Regions from separate parts of the Homo sapiens genome. Here regions 1, 2, 3 and 4 are each linked to region 5. Evidence: fine-mapped QTL for protein levels in blood plasma. Region 5 holds a variant in brackets. A gene starts in each other region. All regions are shown on their forward strands. Region 1 holds the start of SLURP1 (secreted LY6/PLAUR domain containing 1). Region 2 holds the start of PYDC1 (pyrin domain containing 1). Region 3 holds the start of WFDC12 (WAP four-disulfide core domain 12). Region 4 holds the start of LY6D (lymphocyte antigen 6 family member D). Region 5 overlaps CCDST (cervical cancer associated DHX9 suppressive transcript).

The links. PIP is the posterior inclusion probability: the model's chance that the variant is causal. Protein levels are from antibody-based Olink assays in UK Biobank. Linkage for the fine-mapping came from a reference panel and not from the study's own genotypes, which makes the PIPs less certain.
Region 1: SLURP1 starts here. The variant in region 5 is fine-mapped to the plasma level of the SLURP1 protein (UK Biobank, PIP above 0.99).
Region 2: PYDC1 starts here. The variant in region 5 is fine-mapped to the plasma level of the PYDC1 protein (UK Biobank, PIP above 0.99).
Region 3: it holds the start of WFDC12, and the variant in region 5 is fine-mapped to the plasma level of the WFDC12 protein (UK Biobank, PIP above 0.99).
Region 4: LY6D starts here. The variant in region 5 is fine-mapped to the plasma level of the LY6D protein (UK Biobank, PIP above 0.99).

What each region holds. Positions count from the first base shown.
Region 1 is chr8:142,738,962-142,745,011 of GRCh38, forward strand. It overlaps SLURP1 (secreted LY6/PLAUR domain containing 1), which reads right to left and starts at 3,445. Exons shown (of 3, transcript NM_020427.3): 1 at 3,367-3,445; 2 at 2,842-2,961; 3 at 1,988-2,315. The coding sequence starts at 3,424. The coding sequence ends at 2,182. RefSeq lists silencers at 243-522, 563-642.
Region 2 is chr16:31,211,510-31,217,499 of GRCh38, forward strand. PYDC1 (pyrin domain containing 1) reads right to left here and starts at 5,626. Exons shown (of 2, transcript NM_152901.4): 1 at 5,234-5,626; 2 at 4,453-4,648. The coding sequence starts at 5,519. The coding sequence ends at 5,250. It overlaps TRIM72 (tripartite motif containing 72), which reads left to right and starts at 2,610. Exons shown (of 7, transcript NM_001008274.4): 1 at 2,610-2,788; 2 at 3,223-3,619. The coding sequence starts at 3,230. RefSeq lists enhancers at 2,101-3,016, 3,017-3,931, 4,847-5,761.
Region 3 is chr20:45,121,049-45,127,098 of GRCh38, forward strand. It overlaps WFDC12 (WAP four-disulfide core domain 12), which reads right to left and starts at 3,417. Exons shown (of 3, transcript NM_080869.2): 1 at 3,321-3,417; 2 at 3,059-3,217; 3 at 2,377-2,895. The coding sequence starts at 3,399. The coding sequence ends at 2,798.
Region 4 is chr8:142,783,759-142,789,808 of GRCh38, forward strand. It overlaps LY6D (lymphocyte antigen 6 family member D), which reads right to left and starts at 2,781. Exons shown (of 3, transcript NM_003695.3): 1 at 2,707-2,781; 2 at 1,831-1,929; 3 at 1,124-1,698. The coding sequence starts at 2,758. The coding sequence ends at 1,463.
Region 5 is chr1:152,204,448-152,210,497 of GRCh38, forward strand. The region is part of intron 1 of CCDST (cervical cancer associated DHX9 suppressive transcript); the gene reads left to right. Among named protein-coding and RNA genes, the nearest start is that of HRNR, 17 kb to the right of the region's middle. The variant C/T (reference allele first, on the strand shown) is at 2,229.

The DNA of each region.
Region 1 (6,050 bases), not on the chromosome of region 5:
TTGGGGAGGTGGAGGGTCTTGCTCCTGAGGGCGGGGAGGGACGCCCTGCGGTCTGCACACCCCTCTCCTTTAGAGATTTCTTAAAGCTGCGGAAGACTAGCGCTGGCTGGTCTGACCTCTCCGCGGTAGTGGGGTTCAGAAGGGCCTCTGCTTCCCCTCCGCGCAGTAGGGCCTAGCGGCACGGGTGGGCGCCCTTCTCCCTCCCCTCCACCGCCACCTCTTGGCGGCTGGCTGCTTCCCCGCCAGCTTTACCCACGTCCTGCGACGGTCACGGATGCGACGCCCACTCACCTCCCTAGACCCCGCGCGCCCGGGTGGTGAGCGCCTGGCCTCCGCGAGCCCCACCCCGTGGGCGCGCCCTCCCGAGGTCCCTCCCTGGCCGTGGCCTCCCCACGCATTTCCTGGGAGGGTCGCGGCGACAGGCAGGGCAGGTGGGCGTCCTCCAGGCCGGCCGAGAGGGCCAGGGCTCTCTGAACTCTGTGCTGCGGACCCCTACGGTCCAGGCGGCCCAGCTGCGCGCGCAGTGCAGGTTCCGGGCAGAGCGCACAGGGTCGCCGCGTGCTCGCGGTGCGCGCTCTGGGACGAGTCTTCCTGGCGCGGGTTCCGGGACTCGGGCGCGCGCCCTCTGCTGGCCGTGCGGGCTCAGCATCGGGGGCCCCTCGCAGGTGCCCTCCCAGGGATAGGGGCACCTGCTGAGCCTTCACCACTGCGCTCCCAAAGAGCCTGGAGGCCTCATCCCCATTGTGCCGCTGGGGACGCTGCCAGAGATGCGGCGACTTCTTGCTCCGTCCCCCTGGTGAGGCCAAGGCCCTGCCCCCTTGGCTCCAATCGAGGCCCGGGTGAGGCCCTTGGAGGTCCGGCCATGACCCAGGGGACGGGCCCTAACCGGAAGCCACGCCGCCGGCCCGGTGCTGGCCAACGGGGAGGCCCGGGGTAGCCCTTCAAGGGGGCCTCTCTGGCAGCTTTCTCTGGTCGGGGCTGCTCCCCAGGGACAGCATTTAATTCCTGGTATTTCTGGGAGGGCGTAGAGGTAGGGGGTGGGTTCTGACATCTGGGCCCTTCATAGACAGAGGTGGGCTCTCACAGGGGTCCTAGGCGACCCCCGCCACTGCCCTGGTTACTCCCGCATGCTCCTCGGGTATGCCCAGCTGGTCTGACCACAGCCTGCTGCATACCGCTCCCACCCCAGCAGGCACAGGTGCCCACAAGACCCCACGGGCGTGACCCAGCTGATGTGTGGGGCCTTAGAACCCAAGACCTAGCTGGGCAGCGCTTAGATGGTGTGCAGCCCAGGAGACACCAGGGGACTGGGGCCTGGAGAGGGGCAGTGTCCAGGGGTGGCTCAGGCCCACAGCAGCCCGTGCTCCCCGTTGGCTCTGCCCACCTGCCGACAGGGGTGACAGTGGCACAGAGCACTGTGACTGTGATGGGACAGCCAGGGCCAGGAAGAGGGGGAAGCGAGCCTGGAAGTCAGGTCTCCTGGGTCCTGAGAACCCGGGGCTCCTCCGCTAATCTCAGCTGTCCCAAGGGGACAGTGGGCAGTTGTCAGAGGAGGTGACTGAAACCGTGGAGCTGTGTGGTACCAGCAGGCCCAGGTGCACACACCCAGGAAGACCCCTTGGGCTGGGCAGGCAGAGCCAGATGTATCCACCCTTGGAGGAAAGTGGATGCCAACTCTGAGCTTCCTTCCCTCTCTAGGGTGGGAGCGATGTCTCCAGGGTTTACAGGGGAGATTCTTAGCGGGAGATGTTCCCTGGGCTAGGGTACAGGTCCTGGTCTGAGATGCCAGGCTAGTTTGCATCAGGAAAGGGGCCCAGGAGGCATTTCTTCCCCTAAGTCTCTGTTTTCCTATCTGTGAAATGGGTCACAGAGGCTCTGGGTGAGAGGGAGGAGCAGGTGCCTAGAATGTGCTGTCCTTCAGCCTGGCTCTCCTGAAGGCCAGTTCTGTAGGGTGTCAGTGCCCAGGAAGGACAAAAGTCATGTCCACTCTTGGCTTAGTTATGTTTTATAAGCGTGGGGTATGGAAGGCAGAGGGCGCCCCTGGTGTGCTTCTCTCCCCTCAGACCCCATGAGTGAGCTGTGCCACAGCAGCAGGAAGCAGGGGGAGGTGATCACAGGTGGAGCCAGGCCCCGTCAGAGAGGAGGTGCCTGAGGAGCACCTTCCGCCCTGCCGCCCTGGGTTCAGAGTTCCGAGTTGCAGAGGTCTCGGAAGCAGCAGAAGATCAGGTGGGCGGCCCCGATGCTGTCGGGGTCGGTGGCCACACAGGAGCTGGAGCAGGAGCGGGTCACCACGGGGCTCTGGTTGAAGGGGTACTCTGCAGGGTGGGCCAGTGTCAGAACCCTCACTCCCCTGCAGCGCCTGCCTGCTGCTGCACTGCTCCCAGCCGCCGTCGCCTGACCTCACCCTCCCTGTGATCCCTGTTCCCAATAGTCCACATCTGTGAAGCCACCCAGGGCCCAGCCCTCCTCTGACTGTGACCTGTTCATGAATTATTAGGCCTTGTCAGACCTCTGAAGTGCCTGCGCTGAGATGGGAGCCCGAGCCCAGAGGCTGTGGCAACACCACCCAGTGGGTCTGTGTCAGAGCTGGGGTTTGAGCCCCCCAGGGTACCCCGGCCATTAAGCCCCACCCACCTCCAGCGCCTGGTGCCCCAGGACTGGGTCTCTGAGGGGGCTGTGCCACCCTCGTGGAAGGCACCCCTGCCAAGGTGTGGCAGCCTGTTCTGCCCATCCCACCTGCTGCCTTTTGGGCCGGGAGGAGCACCAGCAAAGGAGGGAGGCACTTGGGGGAGGTGGCCCTGACTCCAGTGCACCCAGGGCTGCCGTGGGGCCTGGCCTCACCTGCCTCCACCGTCACCAGCGTGGTCATGCAGGCTGTGTCCTCTGGCTTGCAGCGGGTAATGGTCCTGCAGGAAGCACTGGTCATGGGCTCCTTGCAGGTGTAGCACTTGAGGGCCTCACCTGGGTGAGGGATGGGGGCAGAACCTCATCACCTGACCTCGGTGGCCTCATCCTGGAACCAGGAGGCAGGGGCTGAAGGAGTCTCGCTGACATCTTTCAAGGCCCCGGGCAGCCCTTCAAGGGGCCTCTCTGGCAGCTTTCTCTAACTGAGCTGAGCCACAGACTTGAATGCTGCATCCCTCCACCAAGCCTCAGTCTCCCTTCCTGCAGAGTGGAGCCGTGACCCCTGTCCCAGGGTGAAGCTGGGCTCTGGGACCCAGGAGGCTCACTGAGAATGAGGAGGGTGAGCCTCATGGAGGCCTAAGGAGGCTCTCAGCCACAAAGCACCCCCAACAGCCCCATCCCCCTAGGAGGTGGGCAGACAAGCTCAGAGGCAGGGTCCCCACCAGCCTGCGGCCCACTCACCACAGCCCATGCTCCAGGCTGCCACGAGCAGCAGCTGCACAGCCCAGCGAGAGGCCATTGCTCCGTGCTCAGAAGTGATGAGAGGTAGCCAGCCTCACATCAAGGATTTATACCCAGGCCCTTGGGCACCGGCTTCTGGGCGGTGGCAGAACCGGCCGTGTGAGTCAGGAACGTGGTAAAGGGCCCAGTGGGGAGGCAGCTGGCAGGAACATGGCAGACGGGCAGGGAGCTGGATCTGGGAGCTCTGTCTGAGGACGATGGCCAGGCCTCTGCTTGCACACCTCCAACACTGGGGAACTCACTGTTCCTCAGCCATGTCCAGTGGTCCTGGGACAGCTCTGACAGAGAAGGCCTTTCCTGCTGAGCTCAGACTGCCCCTCTGATGAGCCCCCATGTCCTGGCTGTGCCTCTGGGGTTCACATAGGCCACCCAGCCCCAGCCTGGGGGACCCTTAAGACCCAGGTTCAGTGTAGCCTCTGCCCTTGTTGCTCTAGCCCCGCCTGGCACCCCTTCCCTGCAGCCTGGCCTGCAGCCCTCTCCACAGACCTCTACCTGGTCTGTGTACACCTGATACACACCTGCAAAGTAGAAACCAGAGGTAGGAAGCAGGTGTCAGGTGAGGGTAGCATGGGCCAGCTAGACCACTCTCAGGCTGACAAGGTTGGGCCCAGGAGTGGCCCCTCATCACTGCCAGCCCCTTCCCACTAATGGCCTTTAGACCAAACCTGAGTTTCTTGATTTTAGGCGCCTGACAATAAGGTTCTGCTCACCCTCCAGCCTCCTGGCCTGACTGTGTTGTCTGCTCTTTACTGCGTGCCCCCCACGACACCCTGTTCCACACGCATGCCTGCCTATGCCATACCGCTCAATGACCACATTGCCTGGTCTCCCATCTGATGTCCCACATCTTCCCCATGCTGTGAGACCCACTAAGGTGCCCCTCTCCACAGTCCTTCCAGGTATACCAGCCTCTCTGGTTTCTCTGTCCTGTGATGTCCCAATGGGTGGTTGTATAGATGGATGAGTTGATGGATGGATGGATGGGGGATGGATGAATGGGGGATGAATAGGCGATGGATAGGGGATGGATGGATAGATGGGTGGGGGATGGATGGGTAAATGAATGGGAGATGGATGGGTGGATGCATGAGTGGATGGGTGGATGGATGGGTAGATGGATTAGTGGGGGATGAATATGGGATGGATGGATGGATGGTAAGAGATGGATAGGAAATGGGTGAAGGATGTATGGGTGGATAAGTTGGGGATGAATGGAGGATGGGTGGGGGATGGATGCATAGATGGATGGATAGGTGGATGGATGGATGGATGGGTGGATGGATGGGTAGATGGATGAGTGGGGGATGAATATGGGATGGATGGGGGATGGATGGTTGGATGGATGGGGGATGGATGGGAAATGGGTGGAGGATGGATGGGTGGATGGGTGGGGGATGAATGGAGGATGGGTTGGGGATGGTTGGGTGGATGGATGGATGGGTGGATGGATGGGTAGCTGATGAGTGGGGGATGAATATGGGATGGATGGGTGGATGGTGGGAGATGGATGGGAAATGGGTGGAGGATGTATGGGTGGATGGGTCAGGGATGAATGAAGGATGGGTGGGGGATGGATGGATAGATGGATGGATGGGTGGATGGATGGGTGGATGGATGAGTGGGGGATGAATATGGAATGGATGAGGGATGGATGGGGAATGGGTGGAGGATGTATGGGTGGATGGGTGGGGGATGAGTGGAGGATGAGTGGGGGATGGATAGATGGCTGGATGGGTAGATGGATAGATGGATGGATGGGTGGATGGATGGGGGATGGATAGGAAATGGGTGGAGGATGTATGGGTGGATGGGTAGGGGATGAATAGAGGATGGGTGGGGGATGGATGGATAGATGGATGGATGGATAGATGGATGGATGGGTAGATGGATGAGTGGGGGATGAATATGGAATGGATGGGGGATGGATTGGATGGATGGATGGGGGATGAATGGGAAATGGGTGAAGGATATATGGGTGGATGGGTGGGGGATGAGTGGAGGATGGGTGGATGGATGGGTGGATGGATGAGTGGGGGATGAATATGGGATGGATAGATGGATGGATGGGTGGATAGATGGGGGATGGATGGGAAATGGGTGGAGGATGTATGGGTGGATGGGTGGGGGATGAGTGGAGGATGAGTGTGGGATGGATAGGTGGCTGGATGGGTAGATGGATAGATGGATGGATGGGTGGATGGATGGATGGGTGGATGGATGGGTAGATGGATAAGTGGAGGATGAATATGGGATGGATGGGGGATGGATGGGGAATGGGTGGAGGATGTATGGGTGGACGGGTGGGGGATGAGTGGAGGATGGGTGGGGGATGGATAGATGGATGGATGGGTGGATGGATGGATGGGTGGATGGATGGGTAGATGGATGAGTGAGGGATGAATATGGGATGGATGGGGGATGGATGGGGAATGGGTGGAGGATATATGGGTGGATGGGTGGGGGATGGATAGATGGATGGGTGGGGGATGGATAGATGGATGGGTGGGGGATGAATGGAGGATGGGTGGGGGATGGATAGATGGATGGATGGGTGGATGGATGGGTAGATGGATAAGTGGGGGATGGATGGGTGGATGGGTGGGGGATGGATGGGGAATGGGTGG
Region 2 (5,990 bases), not on the chromosome of region 5:
GCAGGAGAATCGCTTGAACCTGGGAAGTGGAGGTTGCAGTAAGCCGAGATTGTACCACTGCACTCCAGCCTGGGCGACAGAGCAAGACTCCATTTCAAAAAAAAAAAAAAAAAGAAAAAGAAAAAATTAAGAACCTAAGAGACAGGCAAAGGGAGAGTCCAAAGGGGAGATTAAGAGAGTGAAACAGAAACAAAAATTCATTCTGAGAGAGACAGCAGTTGAGAGAGGAAAGAGTAAAACCAGGAAAAGGTTTGAGGGAAGCTAAGAGAAAGATGGAGAGGCCAAATGAGAGGGACTGAGTTTGCGTGTTTATTCATTCACCTAGTATCTGTAGAGCGCCTAATGTGTGTCACACACTTTAGTCTAAGCTGGAGACAAGCAGTAAACACAATTTCTATTCCGTAGGAAGAGACAGACAAGAAACCAGCAAACAAGTAGAATACATTGCATGTCAGATGCTGATAAATGTTATGGAGAAAAGGAAAGCCAGGCAGTGAGATGTTGGGGAGTTAGGAGATTTAAAATCAGGGAATTGGGAGAGGTCTTGCTGGAAAGGTAATATTGAGCAAAGTCTGAGGGAGGAAAAAGAGGATGCCATGCAGTACCTGGGTTGGAGAGTGTTCCAGGCAGAGGGGACCGTAAGTGCAAAGTCCCTGATGCCGAGTGATCAATGGGGAAAGGGGTGATAAAAGAGTCAGAGTGATTAATGGGGTCATAGCAGATAGGGCTTTGTAAGCCACAGTTAGCACTTTGGTTTTTATTCTAGATGAAATTTCTTTCTTTTCTTTTTTTTAATATTTATTGTTTTTTTTGAGACGGAGTTTTGCTCTTGTTGCCCATGCTGGAGTGCAATGGCATGATCTTGGCTCACTGCAACCTCTGCTTCCCAGGTTCAAGCAATCCTCCCATCTCAGCCTCCCGAGCAGCTGGGACTACAGGTGTTCTTCACCATGCCCAGCTATTTTTTTTGAGTTGGAGTTTCGCTCTTGTCACCCAGGCTGGAGTCCAGTGGTGCGATCTCGGTTCACTGCAACCTCTGCCTCCCGGGTTCAAGCGATTCTCCTGCCTCAGCCTCCCAAGTAGCTGGGATTACAGGTACCTGCCACCACACCCGGCTGAGTTTTGTATGTTTCATAGAGACGAAGTTTAACCATGTTGGCCAGGCTGGTCTCAAACTCCTGACCTCAAGTGATCCACCCGCCTGGGCCCCCCAAAGTGCTGGGATTACAGGTGTGAGCCATTGTGCCTGGCCCTTGCCAACTTTTTAATGGGGTTGTTTTCTGCTTGTTGAAATGTTTAGTTTCTTTATATATTCTGGATAGTAGATCTTTGTTGGATGCATAGTTTGTGAATATTTTCTTCCATTCTTTTTTTTTGAGACGGAGTCTCACTCTGTACCCCAGGCTGGAGTGCAGTGGCGCGATCTCGGCTCACTGCAAGCTCCGTCTCCCGGGTTCACACCATTCTCCTGCCTCAGCCTCCTGAGTAGCTGGGATTACAGGTGCCCGCCACTGCGCCCGGCTAATTTTTTGTATTTTTAGTAGAGACGGGGTTTCACTGTGGTCTCGATCTCCTGACCTCATGATCCACCCGCCTTGGCCTCCCAAGAGTGCTGGGATTACAGGCGTGAGCCACCGCGCCTGGCCTTTCTTCCATTCTTCAGTTGTCTGTCTGTTGATAGTTGCTTTTGCTTTTGCTGTGCAGAAGCTCTTTAGTTTAATGAGGTCCCACTTAACAATTTTTGTTTTTGTTGCTTTTGAGGACTTAGTCAAGAATTCTTTACCAAGGCTGATATCCAGAATAGTATTTCTCCTGCGGTTTCTTCTATGATTTTTATGGTTTGAAGTCTTACATTTAAATCTTTAACCCATCTTGAGTTAATTTTTTTTATATGGTGAAAGGTAGGGGTCCAGTTTCATTCTCTTGCATAAGGCTAGCCAGTTATCCCAGCGCCACTTAAATGAAATTTCAGCTGAGATTTGAAAGATACACATACAGGAACCAGGGCAGAATTGAGTTCTGGGCTGCAGGCTCTGGATTCAGTTCATTCATTTGTTCAATGTCTCTCTATCATTCATTCTCCAAGCATTTAGAGAGGCCTACTTTGTCCCAGGCTTGTCCTGGGTGTACTAGAGAGACCAAAGTGGAAAAGACCCTCCCCTCAGCTCTGGAGGAAGAAAACATTTCAGGGTGGGGTGAGGTCCTGCCCTCCTGCAGGTGGGGTAATCCTGCCAGGGTGACCTTGGTCAGCCATAAACTTGGGGAATGAGTGGGTGACAGGCTGGGGAGGGGCTGCCAGCAAGGAGGAAGGAGCTGGAGAGTGTGGAGGTGGGAGTGGGGGGAGAAAGGGCAGACCCCCTTCAATTTTCTGTCTTTTCTGTGGTGTGAAAGGCCCTGGCTCCCCGCTGGCTCTGAGCTCTGACTCCAGGCAGGCCGGGGAGAGAACAGTGGATGGGCCAAGACAGGTGGCCCTGTCATGTGATGTGTGCCCAGGGACTACTCAGCCCTCACTTTTAGAACGGTTTCCGGAAGTGATGGGAGGGATTGGGCAGGGCAGCTAAATATAGTCCTGGGGCCATGGCTCAGTCTGGGAGGGTCTTCCGCTGAGCACTGTGTGCCCATCACGCGTGGTGTCCACTGCCAGCTGCCCCTGTGAGTCCCTGTCCTTGCTTGGAGCCTGCTGCTTGTCTCAGATCCTTGGACCCAGCCCTGACCCCAGTCCAGCTAAGCTCAACCCTGACCGGTCCTCCTTCGAGACTCTTTCAGCCTAAGATCTCCAACCAGACCTGTGAGTCCCGTGGGCTGGAGAGAGGGGGAGGGGAGGTCTGGGTATCTTGGTAAAGTGAGGGAGGGGAGTCTCGGAGTGGGGGCTCTGGAGAATTTGGGTCCGGGACTAAGGTCAGAGGCTGAGGCCTGGGGCTAAGGCGAGGGCAAGGACAGTGGGCTAGAATCTGGGCTTGTGTTCAGGAACTGGGGTTGACTGATAGGGCATATTTTTGGGGTTGGAGCTGAGAATTGCAGTGGAGGCTGCTTTTGGGCCTGAGACCGAGTTCCTCTTTCCCCTTGGCCGTCAGAGTCCCATCCAGTGTAGGATGTGAGGTCTTTACAGGCTGGGGCTTCTCCCTGCGGGGCGGCGGGCCCGGCCTGGGCTAGGGCTGGGCCAGGGCTGGGCCGGGAGCGCGGCGCCGCGGGGTCCCCCTAACCTACTCCTCCTCCACCCAGGCCCGCCATGTCGGCTGCGCCCGGCCTCCTGCACCAGGAGCTGTCCTGCCCGCTGTGCCTGCAGCTGTTCGACGCGCCCGTGACAGCCGAGTGCGGCCACAGTTTCTGCCGCGCCTGCCTAGGCCGCGTGGCCGGGGAGCCGGCGGCGGATGGCACCGTTCTCTGCCCCTGCTGCCAGGCCCCCACGCGGCCGCAGGCACTCAGCACCAACCTGCAGCTGGCGCGCCTGGTGGAGGGGCTGGCCCAGGTGCCGCAGGGCCACTGCGAGGAGCACCTGGACCCGCTGAGCATCTACTGCGAGCAGGACCGCGCGCTGGTGTGCGGAGTGTGCGCCTCACTCGGCTCGCACCGCGGTCATCGCCTCCTGCCTGCCGCCGAGGCCCACGCACGCCTCAAGGTGCGGGATCCGCGCGCATCGTGGTCGGAGGGGCTGTTCGGTGGCACGGGGCCGATGGGGAGGTCGCTGCAGTGATTTGGATTCTGAGTCTCTAGAGAGGCTCACGAGCTCCTGGAGTTGCGGGGGGCGGGGGCGGGGCGAAGCAGCCAGGAAAGAGGGTCTGAGGAGCTTAAGGCGGGGCTGGCAGAGGAAAGCCGCGCAGGGATGGAGCCTGGCGATAAGGGCGCTGAGCAAACGTAGGTTTCCCGGCCTTAGTCCCTAGAGGAAACTGGAGATGGGCGGGCGGAGCCCCAGGGCGGGTCTGATGGGCCGGGCGGAGCCAGGCGGAGCAGGGACTGACCAGCCCCTGCGGCCCACGCTCGCATTCCTGCACCCGGTGGGCCGTTCGGGCTGGCTCCCTGCTCGGCGCTGGCCCACTTTGGACTGGAGGCGCGGCGTTCGGGACCGAGCCAGGCGGCCGGGGCAGGGTTGTCCCCTTGTGCTCAGCGGAGGCCCACGCACCCCTGAAGCTGCGGAACTTGGGCTGGCCTGACGGTCCCCAGGCGGGGCCTCACCAGAAGGGAGACTGTAAGGGCTAGGCAGCCGGGATCTGCACTTATGTGTGCGGGCCCAGGGTGGCACCGAGAGCCCCGTCCAGGATGTTTTTCTGGGTGGAGCTGGAAGTCCCGAAAGCCTTGGGAGCCCACACGCAGTTGTGCGCGTCCCGAAGTACCCAGCAGAGACACCCAGACAGAGGCAAATAGAGACGAACGCACACTGGCTGGTGCGTGTCATCCGTGTGGCAAAAGCACACACGTATAGCTACCGGCGGGCACGTGTGCGCGCAGCCCCAGTAAAGTCTGCCATGAATATTTATTGGGCAGTGGAAGAATAAATGACAGGTGCAGGGGCTGGAGGAGGCGGGGTCTGGAGGCACGGAGGCGTCCTTGGTCCCCGAGGTGGAGACACTGCTGTTGTCTTACGCGACTGGTGCGCGCGTGGGGCTGGCTTCACAGGCGTTGCATTACTCCTTTTGCCTTGACCCGCCTCCTAGAAGGGGTAGACCACCGTCCTTTCGTTGGTATTCGAGGCCCCCAGACTTCCCAGGGACCCAGCCTCTCAGTCCTGCCTGGCCCAGTTCAGCCCAGTCCTAGCTGGTGGTCTCCTAGCTCAGGGCAGGAGCCTCCTCCCGGGACCCCTCCCATCCCAGCACACCTGTGCTTAAGACCCCAACCTCAGGGCAACCCGCTCGGATCCCCTTCCATGCTGTGGAAGCTTTGTTCTTTTGCTCTTTGCAATAAATCTTGCTGCCGCTAAAAAAAAAACAAAAAACAAACAAACAAAAAAAACCCAACCTCGCCCAACCTTGCCCGTCTTTATCTGCGAAGAAAGCACAGAACCCATGAAACGGAACAGGGCCCAGGCAGCCCAGGAGCCTGGAAGGGGGCAGTGGGGCGAGATGCAGCCCACCAGGGTTCGCGGCAGCCCAGCCCTTCGCCCCCGGGAGGGGCTGGCCGGAGGTCTGAGGGAGGACCCCAGGAGGGACCCTGAAGGAGGGGAACAGGAAGGCTCTGGGCGGGACCTGACGCGTGGGTCCTTGGCGAGGAAGCGGGGTTGGGTCCCGAGATCACGTACCAGCTCAGAGTGGCCCTCACGCAGCCCGCTGCAGCCGTGCGGCCTCCTCCAACATGCGCATGTCGCGCAGCACGGCCACGACGAGCTCGGCTGCGTAGTCCTCGTAGTAGGAGGCGACCAGCTTGTCGGTGAGGTCCACGATATCTAGCTGCCCGAGCGCGCCCCGCGGGATGCGCTCAAAGCCCTCGCGCAGCGGCACCGTCCCCAGCTTCATCTTGAACTTCTTGAGCTCCTCCGGTGTCAGGTTCTCCAGCACCTTCAGGATGGCCTCGCGCTTCGTTCCCATGGCTCAGCCCTGCGCCTCTGAGCCTCCGAGGGCCTGGAGCCATCAGGTCCTACCTTTCCTGCAGCAGGTGGAGCTGCCGCCCCCGGGGATGTCCCGGGAAGGAGACTGATCTGGCAGCTCCTATTCAACCCTGTGGCTCCTGCTGGGAGGGGACTCTGCAAACACCGCCTAGAGGGTCCCCCAGTTTCCCCTGGGAGAGTGGGGGCGCCAAATTGTTGAGGTGGGGATTGCTGTTCCCAATCTGCAGAGGAGGAAACAGGTTGCAAGTCATTGAGGCAGGAATGGAACTGATTCCATGGTCAGGCACCTCCCAGCAAAGAAGTGGCTTTGTAGCCTGGCATGGTTGCTCATGCTTGTAGTGCCAGCTACTCGGGAGGCTGAAGCAAAAGGATTGCTTGAGCCTAGGAGTTCGAGTTGTGATTCTGCCACTGCACTCCAGCCTAGGCAATCCTGTCTCCAAAAAAAAAAAAA
Region 3 (6,050 bases), not on the chromosome of region 5:
TTGAAGCCAAGCATTGACTTCTCTCTAGCTATGAAATTCCTAAATGGCCTCTTCTTTCGATAAAAGACTGTTTCATCTACATTGAAAATCTGTTGTGTAGCGTAGCCACCTTCCTCAATTATCTTGTGTAGATCTTCTGGAGAACTTGCTGCAGCTTCTCCATCAGCACTTGCTGCTTTACTTTACACTTTTATGTTATGGAGATGGCTTCTTTCCTTAAATCTTGTGAACCGACCTCTGCTATCTTCAAACTTTTCTTACGCAGCTTCCTCACCTCTCAGCTTTCATAGAATTGAAAAAAGTTAGGGCCTTGCTCTGGATTAGGCTTTGGCTAAGGGGATGCTGTGGCTGTTTTGATTTTTTTATCCAAACCACTAACATTTTCTCCATATTAACAATAAGTCTGTTTCACTTACCATTTGTGTGTTTGCTGGAGTAGCTGTTTTAATTGCCTTCAATAACTTTTCCTTTGCATTCATAACTTGGCTAACTGGTAAAAGAGGCCTAGCTTTGGACCTTTCTTGGTTTTCAAACATGCCTTCCTCACTAAGGTTAATCATTTCTAGCTTTTTTTGATTTAAAGTGAGAGACATGACTCTTCTTTTCACTTAAACACTTAAAGGCCACTGTAAGATGATTAATTGGCCTCATTTCAGCATTGTTGTGTTCCAAGGGAGAGAAACAGAGAATGGCCGGTTGGGGGAGAAATCAGAACATATGTGACATTTATCGATCAAATTCACTGTCTTATGTGGGCACAGTTTATGGCACCCTGAGACAATTAGGAAAGTATCATCAAAGATCACTGATCACAGACCAACATAACAGATGTAATGATAATGAAAAAAATTGAAATATTGTGAATATTACCAAAATGTGACACAAAGACACATAGTGAGCACATGCTATAGGAAACATGCAGCCAATGTACTTGCTTGGTGCAGGGTTGCCACAAACCTTCAATTTGTAAAAAATGCAATGACTGCAAAGCACAATAAAACAAGGTATGCTTGTATTGTGGCTGTAATTGTTGTAGCTCCATAATATGTTTTAGTGACTGGTGGTATCCATTACCCTTCATTAGTCTACATTTTCAATTTTCCAGGTTACAAGTATTTTATTGTTCCATGTGAACCTAATGATCATTTTGTTAAGTTGCAAAAACAAACCCTTGTTTTTATCATAAAATGTTTTCAAAAATGCACAAAAGAACAGCAAATACTTTTATGGAGCCTACATACCCATCATCCAGATTCAACAATGAACCATTTTACAAGAATTCCTTCATGCATATCCCCACCCCTTTTTTGGCTGAAGTATTTTAAAGTAAATCCAACCGATCTTATACTTTACCTTTAAATACTTCAGTGTGCATCTCTAAAAACTAAGGACACTTTCTCACATAATGACAATCCTACTGTTACACCTAAGAAAATTAACTGCAGTTTCTTAACATCATCTAATATTCTATTTGCATCTTGTTTTTCTTATTGTCTCAAAAGTGACTCTATGGTTGTTGGTGCACATATTGCATTGGCTGTAATGTATCTGAAGTTTCTTTTAATCTAGAACAATCTCTCCAACTCTTTTTTATTCTCCTTTCCTCCCTCCTTCTTCTTCTTCATGCTATTGACTTGTTGAACAAAACAGACAAATTGTTCTTTAGAATGTCCCATGTTGCTTCCCTGTGATGTCTTTCATCTTCTTTGTCCTTCACATTTCCCATAGATGAATGCTAGCTGTAGAGGCTTGGTGAGGTTCATGCTCAACTGTCTTGGCAGGAGCCCTTCTTGAATGATGCTGTGTGTTTTGTGTTGCATCACCTCAGGAGGAACGGAGGTCCGCTTTACCCATTTTTAGCATTGTGGAGACAGATTAATGTGTTTTCGGTGTGTACCTGAATCCTCAAGTTGTAAACTTGTGTTTTCCCTCTTACAAACTGTAAATATACCACAGGGTGATGAAATGGCACCCTGTAAATATTCAGAAGCCATGGATAATCATTGCCAGAATCAATTATTTCATTAGGGTTTGCAAAACCCAGTGGGTTTTAATTTTAATTATATTTCAGGTATAAATTATGCTGACCAAGGTGAACACTTTGAGGAGGCTTCCTGCTTGGGGAAGAGCATATCTTTTAAAAAACATTTATTTATTTATTCTGTAGAAAAGTTTAGTCTATTTATCCAGATCTTTTAAAATGTCATTTAATAAAGTTTTAGGGTTTCCTTTCAGAAAATTTCTGTACATCTCTAGATTTATTTGTAGGTATTTTATATTTTATTCACTTTGATAATGTTGAATAGGATTTTTTTTTTTTACTATTAGGTTGTCTTAGCAGGTTTGGGCTGCTATAACAAATTACCATAGACTGGGTGGATTATAAACAGCAAATATTTATTTCTTACAGTTCTAGAGGCTGGGAAGTCCAAGATCAAGGCACCAGCAGATTCAGCATCTGGTGAGGACCAGTTTCTCTTCTCTGACAGTGCCTTCTAGCTGTGATCACACATTGCAGAAGGGCAAGGCAGCTCTTTGGGGTCTCTTATAAGGGCACTGGTTTCATTCATGAGGGGTCCATTCATGAGCATTAGGGAGGAGCACCAGGTAGAGAGGGAAAGTACCGTCCCTGGGGTCTGGACTTTTTGTGACTCTTCCCTCTTTTTGGGGAAAAGGACTTCAAGCTCAGGTTTTCTTTGGTGGGGTTGGGTATTGCTTCTTCCATATTCCAAGTCTCAGGACCCTCAGGGGCAGGTGCCAAGTGAGAGTGACCCCCAGAGGTAGAAAGGACCCAGCATCATTTCTGAGGACACCTGGTAGAGGAGGAGCCTGGACACTTGGCCTCCCATCCTGGCTCAGGGTATGGCCTTGACACATCTTCATCCTTGTTTCCTCCTTTGGACAATGGAGATGTTCAGACTAGGTGGTCTCTGAGGGCCCTGCCAGCTTTAGCCATCCCTCCCCACACCAGCTAAAGGGACTAATTCCTCCGAACTTTCATGGGTCAGATAGAGGCAGGGAAGGGACAGCCCCAGCCCTGGGAGGCAGGTCTCCTTACCTTCTTCCAGTTCCTTCACAGGAATCACACACTTGAAGCCACAGTGCAGGTAACAACACTTCCTTTCCCCCAGACAGTCCTGGTCTGTGTGACACTGGGGAGGATCGGACTTGAAGCAGCGTACGTTGTCAGCTGGGCAAACCCCTGCTTTCTCTATACCTAGTGGAGGAAGCCACAAGGTGATATGAGAACTCCAGCCCCAGAGGGCCCCTCAGGACCTCTCCCCAGCCCAGCCCCACCCAGCTCCACCATGTCTGCTCACCCTCTTTAACTCCTTCCACAGCCACCAGGGTCACAAGAACGAGAGACACCATGAGGACCAAGAAGCTGCTGGACCCCATGTTGCCAGGCAGGTGCTTGGCTGGGAGCTGGGCTGAGCCTGGCTTTATAGTGTTCCTGCTGGGCATGCCAGTGGGTGGAGCTGAAGGCTCAAAATGGCAAGGGAGGCTGCACTTCCCAGCTCTATTTGGAAATGGCCCCTTCTGAGGAGGGACTTGGGGCTTTCCCTAAGGCTCTGCACTGGAATAGATGAAGAAATCCAAGAGCGACCCTCGTTCTTCACACGAGGAGAAGAAATGGACACGTGATTGACCATTAGGCGCCACCAGGGCCAAACTATCTTATGGAAGGAGGAAAAGAAGCACAGAAAGGGCATGAAATTACTCAAGTTCACACACGAGGCAGTGGCAGGGCCAGACTTCCTCAACTCCACCGTGTTCTCTATCAGTCCCTCTTCATGCCTGATTCACCTGGGACCAAAATCTTCCCTCCTTCCTGTGCTGCCCCGGACTTGTTCTCAGTTCTCACCTCACCCCAAGGAAGAATCTGAATGGCAGTGCTTAAAATGTCTGTCCTGAACATTCACTCTCAGCCTTGCGCTCCAGCACCGTGTGCTCCTGCCCCCCGCCAATCTCATGTGGCCTGGAGGAAAGCAGATTTTGGACCTGTCACCAGCTGTGTGACTTTGAAAGCAGCTTCACCTTTCTAAGCCTCCGTTTCCTCATTCATACAATGAGCATAATAATTATACTGTATCATCTTCATAGGATTTGTTTTCCCTCCTCTGCCCCTGCATCCCCCAAATTCCTGGATTTGGAAGAAGACATGGACGTGTGTGCGTGTGTGTGTGTGTGTGTGTGTGTGTGTGTGTGTGACCAGGCTTTTGGGGTCCTTTCTTTGAATGAGTACTAAAGGGAGGAAAATCCTTCCTGTTGGAAAAGTTGCAGATATAAGCCCAGAAACTCCAGAAATTTGGTCCTGGCCCTGGTGAGAGAGAAATTCTGAGAAGATAAATCTAAGATGCTGATAAAAAGAGATGAGAGATGGACAGGGAGTAATTTAGAGGATATCTAGTCCTTCACTAAACTTTTTCCTGAGATCAGCCCCACTCATACCCAGGGTTATGTTACCACCCAATACATTCACCTTTCTGCCTAAGCTGGTCTGAATTGGATTTCTGTCATTTACTAACAGGACCCCTGAGTAATGCAAAGATTTGGGTTTGGGGTGTTCCACATCCTGAAGTGTGGAAGGGACTGAGTTGGGGTTAAGTGGAGGCAGGGAGGATACCTCCATTCCTGGAAGTGAGCCTACTCCTTATTAGGTGGTGAATCTTTGGTTACAATCTCACCAGTCATATCACTGGACTCAGATCATTTGGATACCAGGGATGGAATCTGGGAAGTTCATAAACAAATACTAGAATGTTGGAATGTATTGGCTATTTCCTCCTCCACCTTTTTATTATGAACTTTTTAAACATACAGAAAAATTGAAATAACAGAACAATGATACTTGTATACCTACAACTGGATTTAACAATTATTAATAGTTTGGGATATTTTAGAATACCTATAGCTACATTTGTTGAAATATTTGAAATGAAATTGAATACATTATGTTCCTATTTCCTAAATACATCAGCATGCAAATTCTAAGAATAAGGATATTCTTCAATATAATCACAAAGCCATTATCATATCTAAGATAATTAATAGTTTCTGCATGTCATCTCATAGCCAGTTCATATTTGTTTCTCCGGTTCTCCCCAAAATGTCATTTGTAATTGACTGTTGATGATACTTCTTTAAAAAAAGTATTGTAAAATAAATCCTACATATGAAAGAATGTAATCAACATTCTATACCTTTTGAAAAAGAATAATAAACACCTATGAACCTATCAATTTAGAATAGGACATTACCATCCCTACTTCAGAGGTAACCACTATCTTGAACTTTCTGTTAATCATCCTCATGTTTTCCTTTAAAGTTTTGCTCTCTTGCTATGGCTTGCTTAGTGATACGTGTTGTTTAATTTCGTGTAAGCGTAATTATGGCCTAAGTATTCTTTTGTATTTTGCATGCTTTGCTCAACACCGTGTTTTTTTAAAAAATTGTGGTAAGAAATATATACTATAAGACATGACCTCTTAACATATTTTTAAGTGCATACTAACAGTATTGTTAATTGTGGGCACAGTGTCATACAGTAGGTCTCTAGAACTTTTTCATCTTGCATGACTGAAACCCACTGAATAGCAACTCCCTATTCCCCCCACCCCCAGACCCTTGGAACCACCATTCTGTTTTCTGCTTCTATAAGTGACTACTTTAGACACTTCATAAAAGTGGAATTATGCCATATTTGTCCTTTTGTGACTGGCTTATTTTGCTTAGCATAATGTCCTTGAGGTTCACCCATGTTGTAGCATGAGATAGACTTTTCTTCTTTTTTATGGCTGAATAATATTCCATGGTATGCATATATATGTACATGTATATAATCTTTTTCCTTCCCTCATTTATCTGTCAATGGGTCAATGCACATTTAGGTTTCCATTTCTTGGCTATTGTGAATATTGCAGCAATGAACTTGCAGGTGCAAATATCTCTTTGGGATCCTGATTTAAATTCTTTTGGATAAATACCCAGAAGGGGGATTGCTGGATCATGTGATAGCTCTATTTTTAATTTTTTGAAGAACTTCCATA
Region 4 (6,050 bases), not on the chromosome of region 5:
GGCAGGCAGCCCTCCAGGAGGGGGTTGCACAGTGGCCCTGGGTCCCAGGGGAGGCAGGATGGACAGGTGGTAAGAGCAGGCCTTCCCAAATCACGCTTCACCTCCAGTAACCATCCAGCACCCCACTCGCCCCCAGCCCCTCAGCTGGAACTGGGGGTGGTGATGGTGCTGGTCTCATGGTGTGTGGGACAAAGAGCTGAATGCCTGGACCCAGGGCCAGGGAGCACCACTGACCCCTCACCAGCTGCCACCCACGCTACGCCACCGTCTGCTGGCCGCGGCCGGAGGGGGCTCTGCCACCACGGAATTTCCAGGCCAGGCCTGCGAGGGAGCTGGCCTGGGGGAAGGCAGAGCTCTGCTCTGACCCTGGTGAGGCCTGAGACTTCCCATGCCGGGGACATGTGGTCAGCCTGCAGGAGCCTCTGGCCCTCTCCAGAAGTGGAAGGGCCCCTTGCTGGGGCATCTGCCGGGGGCCTCATCTCACTGCACGTCCCAACCTCATCCCCGAAATACCAGAACCCACGCAGTGGGTGCGGAACCCTCCCTGCCTCTGGGCGACCTCATCTGGCCCATATTCCCTGCGTCATACTCCCCGCCCAGTCTAGCTTCACCCTGGTGAGGTCTGGCCAAGGGGCTGCTGGGTTCCCATAGATAGGGTCCATGGGACTTTCCTGGATGGTGGCTGAACTTTCCCTGGGCAGCTGGACTTGCCTTGGCGATGGCTGTAGGTAGTCAGTGCCTACTTGGCTCCAAAGCTGGGGTTGGGCCTGGGGTGTCCCAAGCCGGCCTCTCTGGAGGCTCCTGAACCCCGGTCTCAGAGACATGACCCGGGGTGAAAGGCTGAGGGGTTCCTTCTCCCCTAGGTGCTATGTGTGGGAGGGGCCTGCGAGCCCTCTTACCCTGTGCTCCTACTCAGGCCTCACCCCAGGAGTGCCCTCCACCTCTGGGGCGGTGGGAGGCATCTGAGCAGCCTGCCCCTTCCAGGGTGGGGACGGACGGTGCCACCTCAGGCATCACCCCACGACTGGCCCCAGGGGACATGTGCTGGAGGCTCAGGGTACCTATGTGGCCTGATATCCGCCCCTCAGCTCCTCCGTCCCAGAATAGCACAGCCACAGCCACACTGGTTTAAATCATTTATCTCCATGTAGAGATTTGAGTACAAAAATAAACGGCAACAAAACAGAAGGAGTGTGAAATCCGGGGATCCACAGGGCTTCTGTCCTCCACCTTCCATGCAGCTGGGGGCTGCATCCTCTGTGGGGTGGCTTCATCCTCTGTGGGGTCTGTGGGGCCTGCTCCAAGTCATCAGCATTCCATGCCCACCTGGACCTGGTCCCAGACTTTCGGGGAAGCCCTCAGCCTGGGGCTCCTGGCACCCCCGTTGCGGCTGGGGAAGAGAGGTGTGGAATCCCCAGAGAAAGGGAAGGAAAGGCATGAGGGGCCTTCCCTGGGGGGAAGGTCACAGGCTGGGGGCTAAGATGACGGCCAGGAGGCTCAGGGCCAGCCCCAGGCTGAGGGCACTGTGGGCGAGGGCGGTGCGGGTGGGTGCAGCGTTGTGCAGCTTCTCATTGCACAGGTCCTCCTGGCAGCACTGGGTGGAGCTGGTGCCGCTGCTGACCTGGCCTTGCAGGGTGTAGCTGGGTGTGCACGACTCCGCACAGTCCTTCTTCACCAGATTCCCCCTCAGAGGCTCCACTGGGCACAGGTGAGTGTGGTCAGGCCAGGCAGCCACCTCTGCCCCCCACCTCCCCACAACCTTCCAGCCAACACCCACAACAGCCAGGGATGTCCCCCAGCCCCAGGGACACCTGGACAGATGCTACCCACCTGTGTTCGTGGTCTTGCAGAAGCGAGAGCTGGCCGGGCAGACCACAGAATGCTTGCAGTTGCTGGAGCTGGTGCACACGTGGCAGCGCAGGGTAAGGGCTGGCGGGGAGGGAGTCCGGCTCAGCGGGCCCAACAGAGGCCTCCTGGTGACTCAGCAGGGCCTGCTCCCCCACCTGCAGAGACCCCTCCTGGACAGAGGCCCTGCTGCCCTTGCCCTAGGCCCCCAAACCCGGGCTCTGGGTCCTGGCAGGGCATGTGCCCTGAGTGCAGCCTCAGGGGACATGTATTCCAGCCTGGGCCGGCTTGGAAGAGGTGTCCTGCCCTGCCCCTGTCTAGGGTGTGTTGCAAGCCTTTCCTCCAAGGTCTCAGGGAGCTCTGCGACTGCCAAGAGGACACTGGCTCTTGTCCCCACCCCAGGGGATGTCCCTGGAGGAGATGGCTATGTTTCTGAGGGCCTGACGGAGCTAAGGCCCCGGGGGCAGCCAGCTTGGCTGCTCTGAGCCTATGACAGGAAGGGCTTGGTGGCCTTTGGGCTGTCCTGGGCTGTGCTGGGGGAGACCTGGGGACCGGGAGGGGCTGGTGGCAGGGACTAGATGGCCGCTCTCCCAGTGAGAAGCATCTCAAGACAACCCCCTGCTCCACTCTCTCAGGGTCCGTGACTCCAGGAGTCAGTTCTAAGATCCTCAGATTCTGAAACATTGTAAATCTGACACTCGTTAAGATTCGGGCTCCATGTTGTTTTAAATTTGAAGAGTCTAGCACCCACAGTGTCGGGGTTCTCTGTGCCTAGATGTCGTCAGCTCCAGGCTCCTAGTATTTGGTGACCACACAGGCCACAGCCGCCCACCCGCCCGTCCCCTTGGCCCAGCCCCTCACCTGGCCCTGTAGCCACAGCCAGGGCTGCAAGGAGCAGCAATGCTGTCCTCATCTCTGATGTCGTCTGGGAGCAGTGCGGGCCCCTGCATTGCCAAGGCCTTATAGGCACGGGCTGGGCGGGGGTGGGCAGTCCGCCAGCCAGCGGCATTCTGCAGGGCTCTGTGCAAGCGTCAGCCCAGGACGGGCACCTGCCCCACCCTGCCTGGCCCACGCCCACCAGCCTGGCTGTCGCTGGGCGCTGCCCCTGCTGCCCCCCGCCAGGCAGAGGTCTGCCCTCCGCAACGGGGCCCAGTGGCCTCCTGGCCCTGCTGTTCCTGCTGCTGTGCCTCCATCTCTCCCACTTTCACTTCTCTGTCTCTGTGGGTCTTGTTCTCTCGCTGCCGTCCGTTCCTGGGTCACTTTGTCTCTGACCTGCCACCCGCTACCCCCCGCCCCCCACCCCCCACCATCCATCACCATCCTGTGTCTTTGTCCCTGCATTCCCCCCATAGTTCCCTCAATAGAGTTGCAGCCTGTGCCCGGTGCCCTGTGGGTGCCCGTGGGTGTCCAGGGCAGGGGAGGTAGGAAGGGCAGGTGCTGGTCCTACTCTCCTGGCTCTGGGCTCAGGGTTGCTGCCGGGGATGCAGAAGGTCCTTGAGCTGCAAGGGCTCGGGGTGGCTGTGGGCTGATGGGGTGTGTGAGGCAGAGGCAGAGGCAGAGGCCACTCCGAGGCAGGGAGGGCAGCTGGGGCAGCAGTGAGGTGAGCACTGGACAGAGTGAGGACTGTGAGGACCCGGCCCTCGAAGTTGCCTGGGGAGCCCTGTGGGCAGAAGGCCCGGGCTGTGGAGGCAGCAACTCCACCCTGCGTTGTGCAGGGAGAGACTGAGCCCTCCTGGTCTCCACCAGCCCTGCCTCCCGCCCTCCAGGGCCCCAGAAGCCCTCCCCGTGGGATTCCTTCCCCCACTCTCCAGGCCCCTCCTGCTACGTTGGGGGCAGCGCCATCCCGGCCACTTTGTAACTATTGCTCTAGGTGTCCCGGCTCCAGTCTCCCCAAAATCGTGAACTCTTTGGGGCTGGGCCCCAGCACCCAGGGCCTCAAAGCAGGTTCTTGGTCTGCTGCCCGTTGAGTGGAGGCCAGTCCCCGCCTTCACCCTCTTTATACTCACAGGAGGGACTTTCTTTCCCTGGAGACGGGGTCTCTGAGCACCCACCGCCTCGCGCAGGAGCCCACCTCTTGGGGCCCCCATCCACCTGCTCAGCCCAGCACGCTCTGCCGCTCGCCTGTGCTGGGCAGCACCCACCTGAGTGGTGTGGAGGGGCCCACAGACTTGCTTTGCCCCTGCCCTGGCTAGGCTGAAGGTGAGTGGGAGCCGGGGCACAGATGGAGGTCAGCCCTGGGCCCAGCCTCCTGCCGCCGCTGCCACGTGGCTGATGAACAGACAACAACAGGCCCAGGGCAGGGCAGGGCCGGTTCCGAGGAGGGTGGTCCTGGGCTGGGCTGAGGCTTTTGGGAGCACCGTGGGTACTGGGGCCAGTCAGGCCTGGGCTTGAGACAGACCCTCTGGCCCTTCCTCCCGGCATCTCTCCCTTGCTGAGCCCCACGTCTCAGATGCCGGGGATCCCAGCAAATGTCTCCTGAGAATGCTCCTGGCCGGGCTCTCCCTGACACAGTGCCGGGGCCTGGAGGATCCACCTACAGGAGGGGTTGCCTGGTGGTGCCTTTAGAAACCAGGGTGCAGGCGGGAGCCCCCTGGGGCAGCCCCACATTTGCATCTGGTGCCTGGCCCTGGCTGGAGCTTGGTGGGGACGTGTGTAGTCTCACTTGCCAAGGCAGGTGACCCAAAGGTCCATGCCCCCACCCAGAGAGAGGAGGTTTCCTCCAGCTCCAAGGCCCTGTGTCCATGGGTCACAGTGAGAGGCATGGGCAGCTTGGGGGAAGGTGCTTCCAGGGGCCTTGGGAGGCAGAGCTCAGGGCTTGGTGGCGGGGTGATGACTCGGTGGGCATGGCAGGTGGGGAGGGTGACTCACTGTGGCCAGGGGCATGAGAGCTGCTGGAAAAACAGGTTTGGAATTCCTGCTGGGTCTGGTGGAGCTGGAGGGTCCGGGATGTCAGGTGGCCTGAGAGTGGGTTCTGAGTGTGGGGCCATGGGGGAGTGTGCTCCCCACACCTGGGGCTGGAGGAGGGCCCTGCACACCTGGCTCACCCCCGTGGGACACCTCAGGCATCACTGTGGCTGCGTCCCTGCCAGGCATGGGAGCCGGAGCGGGGTTCCAGTTTTGTGGGATGAGGGCCTCTGACCTGGCAGGGCTGCCCACGAGGATGAGCTGCCCATCCCAGGTGGTCCTAGCAAAAGCATGAACAGCAGCCCTACACAGTTCACTTTCAGGAGAAAGCGGGTGCTTCTGATGCCAGGAGCCCTTGGACAGCTGAGCTTCTGGGGACAGTGCAGTCAGGGAGGGTTTCTTGTAGGCAGTGACCTGACTAGAGCCTCAGAGCCAGGGATTGGAATGTGGAGAGGAGACACTGTGGCCCCTCATGTCAGTCCCTGCCCAGTGCTTGTTCACTGGTGAGGAAGTGAGGGCCAGAGAGCTCCAGGCACGTTCTGGGGCAGAACCTGGTGGGGTCTCAAGCACTTCTCACTATCACCGCCAGCCTTTCCCCCCTCCTCCCTCCTCTGTTCTCTAGGGCCTGGGCCCTCCCCCACTCCACCCCTCCCACTCAGCCCCTGGAGCTGGGGCCCTGGGCCTGGTTGGTACCATCAGGGTATTGGCAGCAGAAATGACACCTGGGAGAGGCGACGAAGGGGCCTGGGGCAGGGAAAACCACCGCCCCACCCCGTTAGCCTTGCCCCCTGCTCCCTGAACCAGGAAACCCGGCACGGGGACAAGCCCAGGCTTCTGTCTGGAGCCGAAGTTCCTTGCTCATGCCCCTTCCCCCACCTTCTGCCCCCTCTACCTTATGCTGGGCCCCTAGGAACACACAAGGGTGTGGTGGCTCAGAGAGGGAAGCGCCTGGCTTAGGGCGGCACAGCACCGTACTCCAGGCTTGCACCAGCCCAGCCCTGGGCCCTGTCCTGGCTGAATGGGTGCCTGGTGGACAAGGCGGGGCCCCGGGCTGGAGAAGCTGGCTGAGTGGGTGCCCGGTGGACAAGGCGGGGCCCTGGGCTGGAGGAGCTGGCTGAGTGGGTGCCTGGTGGACAAGTCAGGGCCCTGGCCTGGAGGAGCTGACTGAGTGGGTGCCCGGTGGACAAGGCGGGGCCGCGGGCTGGAGGAGCTGCCTGGGCTGGAGGAGCTGCCTGGGCTGGAGGAGCTGGGAAGCCCCAGGGCACAAGGAAGGGCTTCTTCACCCTCAGGCTGTTACCTGG
Region 5 (6,050 bases):
GATCTTTCTAAGCCTCCTGCTTCACTCCCTCCCCATCTTCCTTTTAGTAGATCACTTTACTTCCTTCTTTGTTAAGATTGGGAAGTGATTCAAAAAGAATGAGGAGTCAGGCTACCAAGATTACAGTTAGTCTATTCATGTGGATGAAAAAATTTCCTCCATATCATTATCATACTTGTAGGTGTCAGTGTTGCAAAAGTCAGGGATGAAGTTGTTTACATTAGAGAGTTAGCAATTTATAGGAAAGGGCTCAAGGCTTCATTGATTTGGAAGACTAGGTAGAATCTTCTTCCTCATTTTTAGCTTATCTCAGGGTTGTAAAGATTTTTGTTTTTCCTCTCCAATGGTGCGACTTTATATGCTTAGTCATAATGGTGGTTGGGCAAGGAGTCAGTTTTGTTGTCTCCATAGGGGCCAACGGATGTGAATTCTCCTAACTTTGTTTCTAAAAGGAATCAACTAGGTCATGGACCACTAACATACAGATTCCTGGGTCCCATCTACTAGAAATTTGGATTTAGTTGATCTGGGATAGAGGCCATCAGTTTGCTTTTTAAATAATTACCATAGGTGATTCTGATGCAGCTCATCCTAGGAACCTCTTTTAAAAACATGGAGGTAATTGTATTTTTGCTGAATTTTAATCTCCTTTTTGTTTCAAGAGTATATGAGGTATTCTTTTCCTTTCCAAGACTGATTTCTCTATGTGTATATTTGATTCAATTTCTGTCATTCCTTCTAGGTCCTTGATCCAACAACGATTCCTTTCTCTGTATCAACAGATTCTTACTTTCTATAAATCACCTTCCACTTGACTTAGAACTGTTATTCACATTCAGTAAATTTTTATTGCATGCTGCCTGTGTTTCCAGCATATATTTTAATTTCTTCCTTTATAAAGGATTTTTCTTTCTTCCTTGCCTACTCTCTTATTTCCTCTTTACTACAAACTTTTTAAAGAATCTTTTCACACTGATATTTAATAAGAATTATAACAACAAGTAGTAATAAAGATAGCCACTAATATTTATTAGATGATTACTGTGGACCAGACACTTTTCTAAGTACACTATATATATTAACTATGTAGCAGACAGTTCACAAATTAATTAAAAATATATATATTAGGATCTGTTTCTGGGCTATTTATTGTTATATTGATCTGTATTATCTACTCTTCTGCCAATATGCTATCTGGCAGAAGAGTATTTATAATAACTTTATAAAATGCATTTTATCTTCCATTACTTAGTGAAATTCCCTCTCTTTGGGTTCTAGAACACCATTTTCTCTGCCTCTCCTCCAACTTTGATTCATCTTTATCAGTGTCCTTCACTGACCTTTCTTCTCCGCCTCCTTCATGTGATTCTATTTAAAGCCCTTTACAGCCTGCCTCCAACTTGCTTTTCCAGCTGCAGTTCCTGATACTGGTTTTTCTACATGCTTCAGCCAAAGACATATACTCTTTGATCCCTGAGAACACTATTTCCTCAGTGTCTTTGCACATGGAGTTCACTTCTCTGCTTGTGAAGTCTATGAATATTGCATGGCTGATTTGTCACAATTTTAAGTCTTCAACATCTGGAGTGTTCTGGCAAGAATTTGTAGGTAAGGACAAACCAAGGTGGGTGGTGATGCTCAGGAGCCCTTTGTTTCTAGGGTAGAGCACACAGAGTCAGGGAGTCTGAGAGAACAGGAGGGGTAGAGGAAGAGGGCTGAGACAGGCTATTGAAGGAATTGGGTATCAGATACTTATCTTTCAAAAGATACCAGACTGTGTGTGATTGTTTATTATTAGTCCCTGGTGACCTACAAAGTAAGGCATGCATTAAGGAGGTCAAGTCAGAAAATGCCACCCTCTGGAATTGAAACTAATGAGAACTGTTAAATGTGATGAAATAAATAAAATGTGAAGAGATGAGTTATCTGCAGCAGGAGTCCACCCTTGGAAATTAAGTGCTGCTAATGAGCAGGGTGTTCCTCAAGTCTCTCTCAAGACATTAAGTTTGGTTGCATTGAAGCAGGAAAGGGGGAGTCTGAGGATGAGTACTAGTTGGTGTGTCTCCAGCAGTGTCCAGAAGAGTGGATTGCACCAGTCCTAGTTGTTTGACTGTAGTTGTTTAGAGAAAAATATTACTGAAGCACAAGACAGTGTTATGTTAGCAAACACATATGTTTTGGAGTTAGACAGATTTAGGTATAAAACCTGACTTTACTAATATAATATA[C/T]TTGACCTTTTAAAGTCTCAGTTTGCTCTTCAGTAAAATAACATTTATAACCACAGGGTTGCTATGAGAATGAAATTAAACAATAAATAAATATATGTCAAGTATATAGCACATAATGTAATGTTCCCAGTTCATAAGATGTTCAATAACAATGCTGCTTTTGTATTTTTCTATCCCTTTTAGGAAAAATTTTTGAATCATCAGATTACCATAGCACAACCTTGGAGAATAAAACTCTTTTGCTCTGAAGCTCATCTAATAACCTGATATCTCTCAAATGAATCTATCCAATGACAGGGAATACCCCATGTTAAACAGCTGATTCTTGTTCTGAATACGTTTATTATCTTGTAGTTAGTAAATAAATCAATTGGACCCTTAAGACTTTGCTTAGAGTGAATCTGTCTCCCAGAGCTTGATCACATTTGAATGTACAGACAAAAACTAACAAAAGTGAGATCCATCTGGGGATGAGGTATTGGGATTCTGTAAGATCCTGCCTGAAACAGCCCACCTCTTTCTCTTTTCTTATTTTAGCTGTAACATTATGGTTCTTAAGTTTCTAGAGTCATAACAAGGAAAAGAGAAACATTGTGAAAAACTTGGCTTAACTATATAACTAAGCATTTATTGGGAATTTGTTTGCTTTCTCTTATTAGAAAAATTTTCTTGCCCCTTACCCCTTGGAAGGCAAAGAATAAGGTTGGGGTGTTGCCCAGAAAAAGGGTCAGGGTTTGGTTCTCATTCTTATATACCCAGAAATGCACTCATATCAGTGCCCCAGAGTTGATCAGACTCAGGAAAACTGTTTCATTGTAACTGAACTCATCAGGGACTGAAGTATAAAAACCAGAGTGCCATTTTATTAATTTACAGTCAGAAATGCATTATCAGAAACACTGGGTATTTATATTAATCTTGCTGATGAATGCTTTCTCCTTTTGGGAAAATTATGGAAAGCCAAATTTTCTTTTTTTAAAAAATTTTATTATTATTATACTTTAAGTTTTAGGGTCCATGTGCACAACGTGCAGGTTTGTTACATATGTATACATGTGCCATGTTACTGTGCTGCATCCATTAACTCGTCATTTAGCATTAGGTATATCTCCTAATGCTATCCCTCCCCTCTACCCCCACCCCACAGCAGTCCCCAGTGTGTGATGTTCCCCTTCCTGTGTCCAAGTGTTCTCATTGTTCAATTCCCACCTATGAGTGAGAATATGCGGTGTTTGGTTTTTTGTCCTTGCAATAGTTTGCTGAGAATGATGGTTTCCAGCTTCATCCATGTCCCTACAAAGGACATGAACTCATCATTTTTTATGGCTGCATAGTATTCCATGGTGTATATGTGCCACATTTTCTTAATCCAGTCTATCATTGATGGACATTTGGGTTGGTTCCAAGTCTTTGCTATTGTAAATAGTGCCGCAGTAAACATAATGTGTATGTGTGTCTTTATAGCAGCATGATTTATAATCCTTTGGGTATATACCCAGTAATGGGATGGCTGGGTCAAATGGTATTTCTAGTTCTAGATCCCTGAGGAATCGCCACACTGACTTCCACAATGGTTGAACTAGTTTACAGTTCCACCAGCAGTGTAAAAGTGTTCCTATTTCTCCACATCCTCTCCAGCACCTGTTGTTTCCTGACTTTTTAATGATTGCCATTCTAACTGGTGTGAGATGGTATCTCATTGTGGTTTTGATTTGCATTTCTCTGATGGCCACTGATGATGAGCATTTTTTCATGTGTTTTTTGGCTGCATAAATGTCTTCTTTTGAGAAGTGTCTGTTCATATCCTTCACCCACTTTTTGATGGGGTTGTTTTTTTTTTTCTTGTAAATTTGTTTGAGTTCATTGTAGATTCTGGATATTAGCCCTTTGTCAGATGAGTAGGTTGCAAAAATTTTCTCCCATTCTGTAGGTTGCCTATTCACTCTGATGGTAGTTTCTTTTGCTGTGCAGAAGCTCTTTAGTTTAATTAGATCCCATTTGTCAATTTTGAGAAAGCCAAATTTTCTAGAAGGCCCCTTGGTGTGTTTGAAGTCTGTGGCAGAGGGTGTGTTGTGTGGTTCAGCTGATGAATATCATTAGGCACTCATGTGGTGAGACATTTATTTAAAAGACTAGGACATGCTGGACCAGATACACCAGTGGACTAGCTTGTCAGAACACTCTCCCTTGAGCAGTCCTTGATGGGCATTCTAACATTGTTCTTTGTGTTCTCCTTTTTCTTACAAAATAATTTAAGATTTACAAGTAAGTGTAGATTTACAAGTCAGTGAATGATATAATGAATACCATCTTCTTAAGAAAACTTTTGGTATTGTTTACTCGATCTCAGTTCCATTTTCTTCCATCCTTCCAGAGGTACACACTGTCTTGAATTTGCTGTTTATCATTCCCATAAAGATTTTTACATTTACCAAATATGTATTAACCACAAACAATATATGGTATTGTTATGTATATTGTAAACCTATATAAATGGTATCACACCATGTATACTTGTTTTGCAACCTTTTCACTTGGCATTACACTTTTGGAATTTGTCCATGTTGATATATACGTACCTGTAGCTCATGAATTTTAACTGCTATATAGCATTTTAGTGTGTGGGTATATTACAATTTATCCATTCTTCTATTGAACTTTTAGGTTGTTTGTAACATTTTGCTGTTACAGACTTGTCTGTGGTTGCCAGATTTCCTCTTAATTAGGTATCAGTTCAGACTCCTGCTGCTCAGTATCCTCCCGACACTGGATATTGCCAGACTTTAGTTTTTTTCTGATCCGATGGGTATGAAATGAATTTCATTGTGTTTTAATTATCTATTTCCCTGAGCATTGTTTTAAAAATGTCACTTTGCCATTCAGATTACCTTTGGTGAATTTTCTTTTTATAAGTTTTGCTGTTTCTTTTTAATTTTTAATTTTTATAAATTTTGGTGAATTTTCTAAGTTTTGCTGTTTTTTAAATTTTTAATTTTTATAAGTTATTTACATAATCCGGCTATTGATCATCTGTTGTTTATAGGCATTTCAAAAATGTTCTTGGACTCTGTGGTTTGTCCTTTTTACTTTTTGAGATTGTCTTTGGATTTACAGACATTTGTAATTTAATTATAGTAAAAGTCATGAGTCTTTCCTTGGTGGTTTGTATATTTCTTGTTTAAAGAATCTGCACTTATTTCAAAGTCATAAAGATATTCTCCTATATTTTCTTTAAAAATTTTTAAAAGTTTGGCTTATCACAGTTAGGTTTTTATTTACTTGGAAGTGATTTTTGTAAATGGTGTGAAATAGAGATAATTTTTTTCCTATGGAAAATTTATTACCTTGGCACCATTTATTGAAAGAGTTGCCTCTCTCCACTGATAAGCAAAACCACTGCTCTTGTATATCAAGTATGCATGGATCTGTTTCTGGAGTCACATTGCTCTGTATATCTGTTCCTACAACAATACTGCACTGTTTTAAATCATATAACTTTGTAATATATTTTGATATCTGATGAGATGAAACTCCTCCCCTTCTGTATCTTGGTGGCTCACATAATGCCAGCACTTTGGGAGGCCGAGGCGGGCAGATCACCTGAGGTCAGGAGTTCGAGACCAGCCTGGCCAACATGGTGAAACCCTGCCTACTAAAAATACAAACATTAGCTGGATGTGGTGCTGCCTGCCTGTAATCCCAGGAGACTGAGGCAGGGGAATCACTTGCACCCACGAGATGGAGGTTGCAGTGAGCCGATATTGTGCCACTGTACTCCAGCCTGGGCAACAGAGTGAGACTGTCTCAAAACAAAAAACAAAA